2 linked regions of the Homo sapiens genome follow. The protein of the gene in region 1 purifies or fractionates together with the protein of each later gene. This does not show direct contact. Each region holds a gene or a part of one and is shown on either strand. Other genes may lie near its edges.

What was found.
Region 2: the proteins of HK2 (region 1) and NUDCD3 fractionate together in Homo sapiens (co-fractionation; one large-scale study listed by BioGRID). This does not show direct contact.

Annotation. Positions count from the first base shown.
Region 1 is NC_000002.12:74,875,610-74,879,424, reverse strand, and holds part of HK2 (hexokinase-2), read right to left. Parts: intron 2,260-3,815; coding exon 2,104-2,259; intron 738-2,103; coding exon 504-737; intron 1-503. UniProt on the Homo sapiens protein: Catalyzes the phosphorylation of hexose, such as D-glucose and D-fructose, to hexose 6-phosphate (D-glucose 6-phosphate and D-fructose 6-phosphate, respectively).
Region 2 is NC_000007.14:44,403,479-44,407,293, forward strand, and holds part of NUDCD3 (nudC domain-containing protein 3), read right to left. Parts: intron 1,106-3,815; coding exon 962-1,105; intron 1-961.

The sequences.
Region 1 (3,815 bases):
AATAAGTAGGCACAATAAAGAGACATCTTCCAGGTCTCAGCTGACATGTGAATATTCTGGTACCTATGACCTGAGGGATCAAAATGTGGACAGGGCAGGATCAATTTAATACCAAGGTCAGCCAGAGAAGCTGGTAACCCTCACTGGGCTGGGGTGGTCCCTGGCAGAGGACATAGCACCTGCAGGAATCACCAAGAATTCTAAGAGTAAAGACAGGAACAATAACGCATACAAGAGGGTGGCAAAGAGAGTGTCCAGCAGCCAGAGGAGCTCTGCGGAGAGCCCGAGTCATCAGTAGCCTTCAGAAATCACCTCCACCCACACCAGATATGACTTCCTCCCATTCCCCCTTGCCCAGGTGGGAACTTTCATTCCACCAAGACCCTCAGCTCTATGGTCCCTCCACACCACCCCTGAAATGCAAAATGGAGCTGGCATGAGGAGTCACTCAGCCCCAGGTACTCCAGGAACTCCGCATCTCCAGGCCCTGCACACTGACTCACTGGGGGTGTTTCTTGTAGACGGAACCGTCGACCCCAATAGTAGAGCGCAGCCGCTCCTCGCCTTTGTTCTCCTTGATGCGCTGCAGCACGGCGGCCAGGGTGGCTGCGCACAGGCTGGCGGAGCGTGTGGACACGATCTGGCAGATCCGGTGAGTGGCCACGCAGTCCTCCTGAGTCGGGTCCAGGCCCAACCGCATCAGGACCTCACGGGCCTTCCGGATGCCATCCTTCTCCCTGGGAAACAGAAAGATAGCATGTGGGCCTGTGTCTGACCCACTGTGGCCAGTGTGTGTGTCGGGGGGTGGCAAGGAAGCCCTTTAGTTCCAGCAAATTCACCACCCAGTGGGGACAGAATCCCTCTTCATTGCTTAGTCCACCTGTGCAGGGGCAGGAGGAGGAGGAAGGGGGTGCAAAATATAGCACAGCCACCCTGAGGCTCCTCTCCCAGACACCACACACACACGCACACGCATGTGCGTGCGCACACACACACACACACACACACACAGAGACACACGGAGTTGAGAAACACAAGTATTTCTTATGCATGTGCTATGTAAAAACAAGGCCCTGTTCTTGGTGCTTTACCACCAAGTTGTGTGTGTGAGAGTTTGTGTTACATCTGCTTGTGTTAGGGGAGACAGACAGTGTCTCTGCTGTCAGCCACTCTCAACATGTGAACCCTGCGGTGATGCCCACCTGGTTTCTCTCTCTAAAGCAGTAGGAGTCTATTGCATTTCACCATGGACTTGGCACTGCTTTAGCTTGTGTCTAAAGATGGTTGGTAAGGGGCTAGTGCTATAACCTTAGCACCCTTCTCAAGGGAACTAAATCTTGCATCACCTTGGGGTACTTGCATCACCTTGGGGTATAGCAACAAGTAGGCCCCATTCCTTCAAGAGTTTCCCCTTAAAACAAAGTCATTGGCACTGTTCCACTGCTCCATTTGGCTCCAAAGACACCTCCTCTCCACCATCTGGTCCCTGAAACACCAGGACTTCTTCAATCTACAAGTGGAAATCTCAAGAACAGTAAACGAGGCCCGCCTGACTCTTGGGATATTGTTAACAACAACAAAAATCAAGCCATCCTCACTCTTGCCCCTGCTGGGCTGTGAAAATGCAGGCCCCAGCTCTGCTTATTAGAATTAATTGGGTAGCTATATCTCTGGCCAATTCAAAGACCTAGCTTTCTATTATGAAGCAGGGGTCATGACAGAGTCCTTTTTGAGAATTGCCAATAGGGAATCAGATGTCAGAGCTTCAGGAGAAGGAAAAGGAGGCAGATGCAGCTAAGTCTTTCGGGGGCCCTCTGGGGTCCTCCAGCTTTAAACCCAGTGCAACAGCCCAAGTCCCTGCATATGGAGGCCAACCACCGTTCCCAGTACCATGAGTCACTGGTAGCAATCACAATCGAAATCGACAAGAGTGGAGACTGGTAAGTGAAGTGAAGCCACAGGCCCGCCATGGTCCACGTCATGTGAGACCCTCTTGCAGTCTATACTTGAAGAGTCAAAAGGTACAGCCCCCTCCTCATTCCCCAACTACCCGTCAACTCGTGTGGTGATCCAGCAAATAGAGGGGGCTGGCCAGAAGCTCACCCTTCAATGTCTGAGATGTCTTTGGTCTCAAAGCGACCGGTGTTGAGAAGCTCTGGGCTGAGCTTCCCCCCAAAGAGCAGCTCCTCCTTGGCCATCTTCACCAGGATAAGCCTCACCAGCTCCCCCATGTACATCCCACTGATCATCTTCTCAAACCTGCCGGAAGACACAAACCAAAAACATAAAGTCCCCACTGCCCATGTACTCATAGCTTCCCTGTTGAAGCAAGATGCGCACACGTGCAACTTCACAACTAAGGGTTAATGTGTGCAGCACGGCCCAGGAGTAAGATACGTGGAGAGGTGACGGCTCAGAGGGGCTGGCTTGGGTTGTCCCTGCAGGCTGATGGGCCTTGACCTATGGAGAAGAATAAATGAAACTTAAGCAGCCAAATGAAACACACAGGGAGTATGGAACATTCTGGAACAGCCTGTATTTTAGGTAAAGTTATGCGTAGGGTGGTAATCTTTAAAATTCTTCTCTAGCCAGGAAATCATTTTTAAAATTAATATCTTACATAGCCCAATATTTATTTACAAGAGAAAAAAGGCGATCTGATTAGATATGTAGCACAGGCCTAGAAACTCATCAGCTCATACTGTCCACCCCTGCAAGCCGTTCATGGGCTCCAGAGAAAATGGTGTGAAAACCACCTGGGGCAGGGGATGATGGGGCAACATTATAAAGGCAGGTTGGGATAGAGGAATCTGCACTGGGCTCCGAGCTCTAAATGACAGGTCTCAGGGGTCTGGGAGTGAAACAGGCTTCTAAGCAGGCAGGTGACAAGATGTTTTAGAAAGGCAGGGGACGGCCCCCAAACCAGCAGTGCGGTCCGGTGATTTAATTTTAACACTAGGTGGCACTGTTTTCTTTCATAATTGGTCTTTCTGACTAGAACTGAGAGGAAACCAAGCCCTGGTGATAATTCTTTTTGACAAAAGGCCCATTTCTGGGTGTTTGAGAAAGAACCTGTGTCTTAGAGGAGGCACATGGGCCTGCTGCCACTAACTAGGATGAGCCCCAGCGAGGAGGAGGCCCAGGACTGAGATGTGGAAGGGATTCCAAGGTTACCTTTCCGAGAGGAAACCCAGGCCTCCAGGAAGCAGCCTGCTCAAGACCCAAGGCCGAGTACAGCAGCATCAGGGCTAACTGAGAGCTGGCAAAATTGTGAAGATGACAGCGCGCATTTTAAATGTTAGTGCACCCACACAGGCAGAGCTTCAGGAGAAGGAAACCAGCGTGGATGGGAGCCTGGCTTCAACAGTAAGGAACTCCGTGTTGCTAAGTTTTTATTCTAGTTTTTAAAAACACTTTGTTCCAGTCAACATTTGGAAGATACTTACTTGGAAATATATTAGAGGGGACAAAAATTGTCTGTAGTGACTTCAGGGCTACCATGGATGACAATTTGGTGGGTGTCAAAGGATAAGCCGGGGGTGTGCTGTCATGGTCTGGCTGGCAAATTTGTCTTTTGACATTTGAAAGGGCCTTTAGTTCCTCGGAATGACTTGGGTGTGCCTCATTCATGGAGGCAGGCACTGAGTGACTTTTCAGCTCATAAACCTCTCATCAGCCATGGCAGACACAACCAGTATGATCCTCAGAAATTTCAAGTAAAGGACTCATTTCAACATGTGAAACAAGCTTGTGACTTAGATAAATAAACCATGCTTTGACAAAGCAAGGACTCTCAGGCCGGGCGCGGTGGCTCA
Region 2 (3,815 bases), on another chromosome or scaffold:
GACCAGAGTCAAGGTTGGTCCAGGTTTCTGCAGCACTGACAGAATACACTCCTTTCGGTACCTGGCCTGCATGTCCCTCCGAGCATGAGGACAGCCAGGACAGAGTCACTGTGAGCCTGAGAGATAGTTTGTCCCTGCCAGTCAGCACTGGCCAGGGAAGCCCAGGCAGAAGCCTGCCAAGCATGTCTTATAGAAACCAAAACAGATACCTTTATTGCATACTTTGCACATATGAAGAATATATCTGTATAAAATTCTAAAGACTTTTGTCCAGACATTATATTTTTCTTTTCACCTTTATTCCTTTTACCATGCCCTGTAAACACCCCAGTAGGAGAAAAAAAGGAAACAAGTTAGTTCAGAACATGTTGTGCCTCAATTTATCTGTAGGTGACCTCCACTTGGGCACCAGCACAGAGCCACCACTGACAAGGTTCAAAGCTTTCACAGGGGAGAAGGAGCTGAGCCACCAACAGATCTGGCCCAGGCGTGCAGCCCAATTTGTGAGCGAGTCTGCTAACTGGTAACATGTGAGCTGTTCATTTGGAGTCACACCTTAATCTCACTGTCCTGAACTCTTAGCTATGCCTAACCAGCAGCTGGCTAAGGACAGCCAGTTGGTCAATGAGCCTGATTCTCTGAATTTATTAACTCTGTACCCTCCAGAGTAGCATCTGTAAAAATTCAACCTAGCTTTTCATTTTCAATTTACTTGTTTTTGCCTTAGATGTAAGAACAGTGGAGCTCTTGGGAATGACCAAGACCTCAAAGGGCCAAAGCTCAAGTGCCCACAGAGACGATCTCTGAGCAGTATGGAAAATGCTCAGGAAAACCCATCTGCCCCAGCAGCTGAAATTAACAACCTCACTGCTTAAGTGTAAATAGGCTTGTTGGTCAAAAGGGGCATCACTGCAGGTTTGAAGTCCACCTGGGAGCCCTACACACAGGTGCCCAAACTTACCAAAACGCACTTCCCGGGCTCGAGACTCCAGAGAGAACTCTCAGTGTTGATCTTGTGGGTGAGCTTCCCTTCCATGAGGACGCGCTCCCCATTTTCCTCCAGCATGGCCACACGAATGGAGCTGCTGCTAAGGGCCACTGAGACCTGGGGACACAGCAGAAGAAAATCATCTCTCCTATCAGGGTGACCACTGGTGTGCTGTACGGTGGGAGTGGTGATGGTTTCCAAGGTACCTGACTGCACACTACAGCGCTGTCATCAGGCTCACCAGGCATCTCAGTGAAGAAAACCATACCAGCCTAATTTATACCTAGAGCAACCTGAAGATGTCAGCTCATTTAGTAAATCCACCAGAAAATCTTTCTCAGCATAACTGGTAACGTAAAATGCTGTGGTGGAAGCTGCTGTGACCCAATCTTCTTCTCCCTTCTCCAGTTAACGGAGACCAATTGTCACAGCAAAAAGTGAGCAGAGGAGACAAGTGGTATTTCTTCCTTGCCTCCCCTTGTGGCTACCTGGGAGACGCAGGAGCCCAGCCCTGGACCACAGCAACCAAGAAAGCTGAGGGGGCTGCACACCCTGAATTGCTCACCCCAGGACTGCTGTACAAGAGACAAGCACCACCTCTTCCTTCCATGAGCCACTGCACTGCCTGGTTGACTATAGCCTGGTCTTCATCCAAGAGTATGAGACCAACTCCTTTGGTTTTGGAAGGCAGCTATGCTCACCAATATACCACCAACACTCGCACATGGTTTTGCATTTTGTCTTGGTTCTTTACAAAACCAAGCCTCTAAAAGCCTCAGCTCACCCTCCTCCCTCTGAGCCTGTCCTAGGCAGAGACTGGCCCCATGGCCTTCCCCACCGCCCTAGGAACACCTATCCCTGCCCCACCACTTGTCCGTCTCCAGAACTGGACTGGCAGCTGTGGGAGTAGGGTTCCTTTTACTTCATATCATGTATTCCAGCCAGCAGTCTCCAAAGCAGGGTATGCATACCCCAGGAGGTTCACAGGTCAGTAATTAGAAGAGGAAATAAAACAGAACTTCCATTTACATTTTGTATCTGTATAATGTATGCATTAAGAAGACACTGGGATCAAGTACTTAAAACTTTTTTCTAATAGGTATGTGGAATAAAAATAATTTGGAAGCTACTCTCCATGTCATTTGGTAGATGGCTCATTAAACGCTTATAAAATGATTGGAAAAAAAGACAACCCAAACTGATAGATTTTCCAAACTGGAGTTTAGTATTTCCAATGAAATACAATACCATAACCTAACTGTAGTTTAAATATTCGTAAATAAAAAATGGAAATGGGAGAAATGATGTGCAGGAGTCACCGCTGTCAGTTTTTCTTCTTTTTCTTTAAGAGACACGGCCTCACTGCATTGCCCAGGCTGGAGTGCAGTGGCGTGATCCCAGCTCACTGCTGCATCAAACTCCTGGGCTGAAGCAATCCCTCCACCTCAGCCTCCCGAGTAACTGGGACTACAGGTACGTGCCACCATGCCTGGCTAATTTTATTTTTATTTTTTGTAGAGACAGGGGTCTTGCTGTTGCCCAGGCTGGTCTCGAACTCTTGGCCCCAAGTGATCCTACTGCCTCAGCCTCCCAAAGTGCTGGGATGACACATGTGAGCCACCACATCCAGCCCATCAGATAGTTACTAAATGAAAGATAGTTCCTGAGCCATGCAGTGAGGGGAGAAGGTGGCAGAAGGCTGCCCACTGGGGGACACAGCGAAGATATTCTGCTAACCACAGGCGGCTCTGCCAGGTTCACATGCAGACTCCAAGGAAGCATCCTCTCATGAGATCGCAGTTCCACTTGCATGACCTTTCATAGGGGAATTTACCACGGAAAAGGGTATTTACTTGGCTAGTCCTATTGAACAATAGGCAACTGAGCTTCACTCCCTACCTTCTAACACCATGAGGAACGTGAGCAAATGGAACAACAGATCCACTCACTCCTGAAATGATCCAGACACATGTTGGGCCAAATCATGTCTAACCATGAACTTGTGTGCAATGGAAACACGACACAGAGGGCCCAAGGCTCCTCAGCCTGCCTTCACAAGAACAAGCTCACTTAACAAATATAATTCTCCCACCCAGCTCTATATAACATAATAATTTCCAAATTTGGGGAAGCTTCTCACACTGCCTACCCAGGGGAATGAACCAAATCATCAAGGGAGAAAACCAGACAAGAAATGCTTCCAGAGGTCCCAGGTGAAGATGTCACACTGGGAACAGACAGCCATCTCTCTGACCTCTTGTGAACTGCAGGCATAATAGGCATGAAGAGAAAAACCCCAGACAGTGAAAATGGGGGAAGAGGGAGGCCAGGAACAGATGAGATGTCAACAAATCTGCAGAAGACAAAAGGAGGAGGGGCACAGGAGACAAATCCTATAGGGTAGGAGACATCCAGAAGCCACAGCTACATAGGCTCCAGTTGGGAGTCGGCAGGTATGCAGAGCAGGAGCAAGGCCAGGGGCACATGTGGGAACTGCTGTGGCCCTGGACGCCCCACTGAAAGGGACAGGAATCCCTCTGTTTGCTACAGAAGAATGGAGGACCTTGCTCCAAAGACACTGACCAGCAGTCTGAGGACCTAGTGTGGATGCCTGTGTGTCAAGTGAAGTCCTACTCACTCAAGCATTAGGATGCCAAGACCCTATGTCCTATAAAGCAAAGCTGACTGGTCAATCCACTCAGCTGTCGGTGGTGGTGGGACGAGCAGGTTTCAGACACACAGTAGACAAACCCATCAATACGGTCCCACACTCAAGAGAATGGGAGAAAAATATTTTTGTATTAAAAAAAAAAAAAAGACCGGGCAT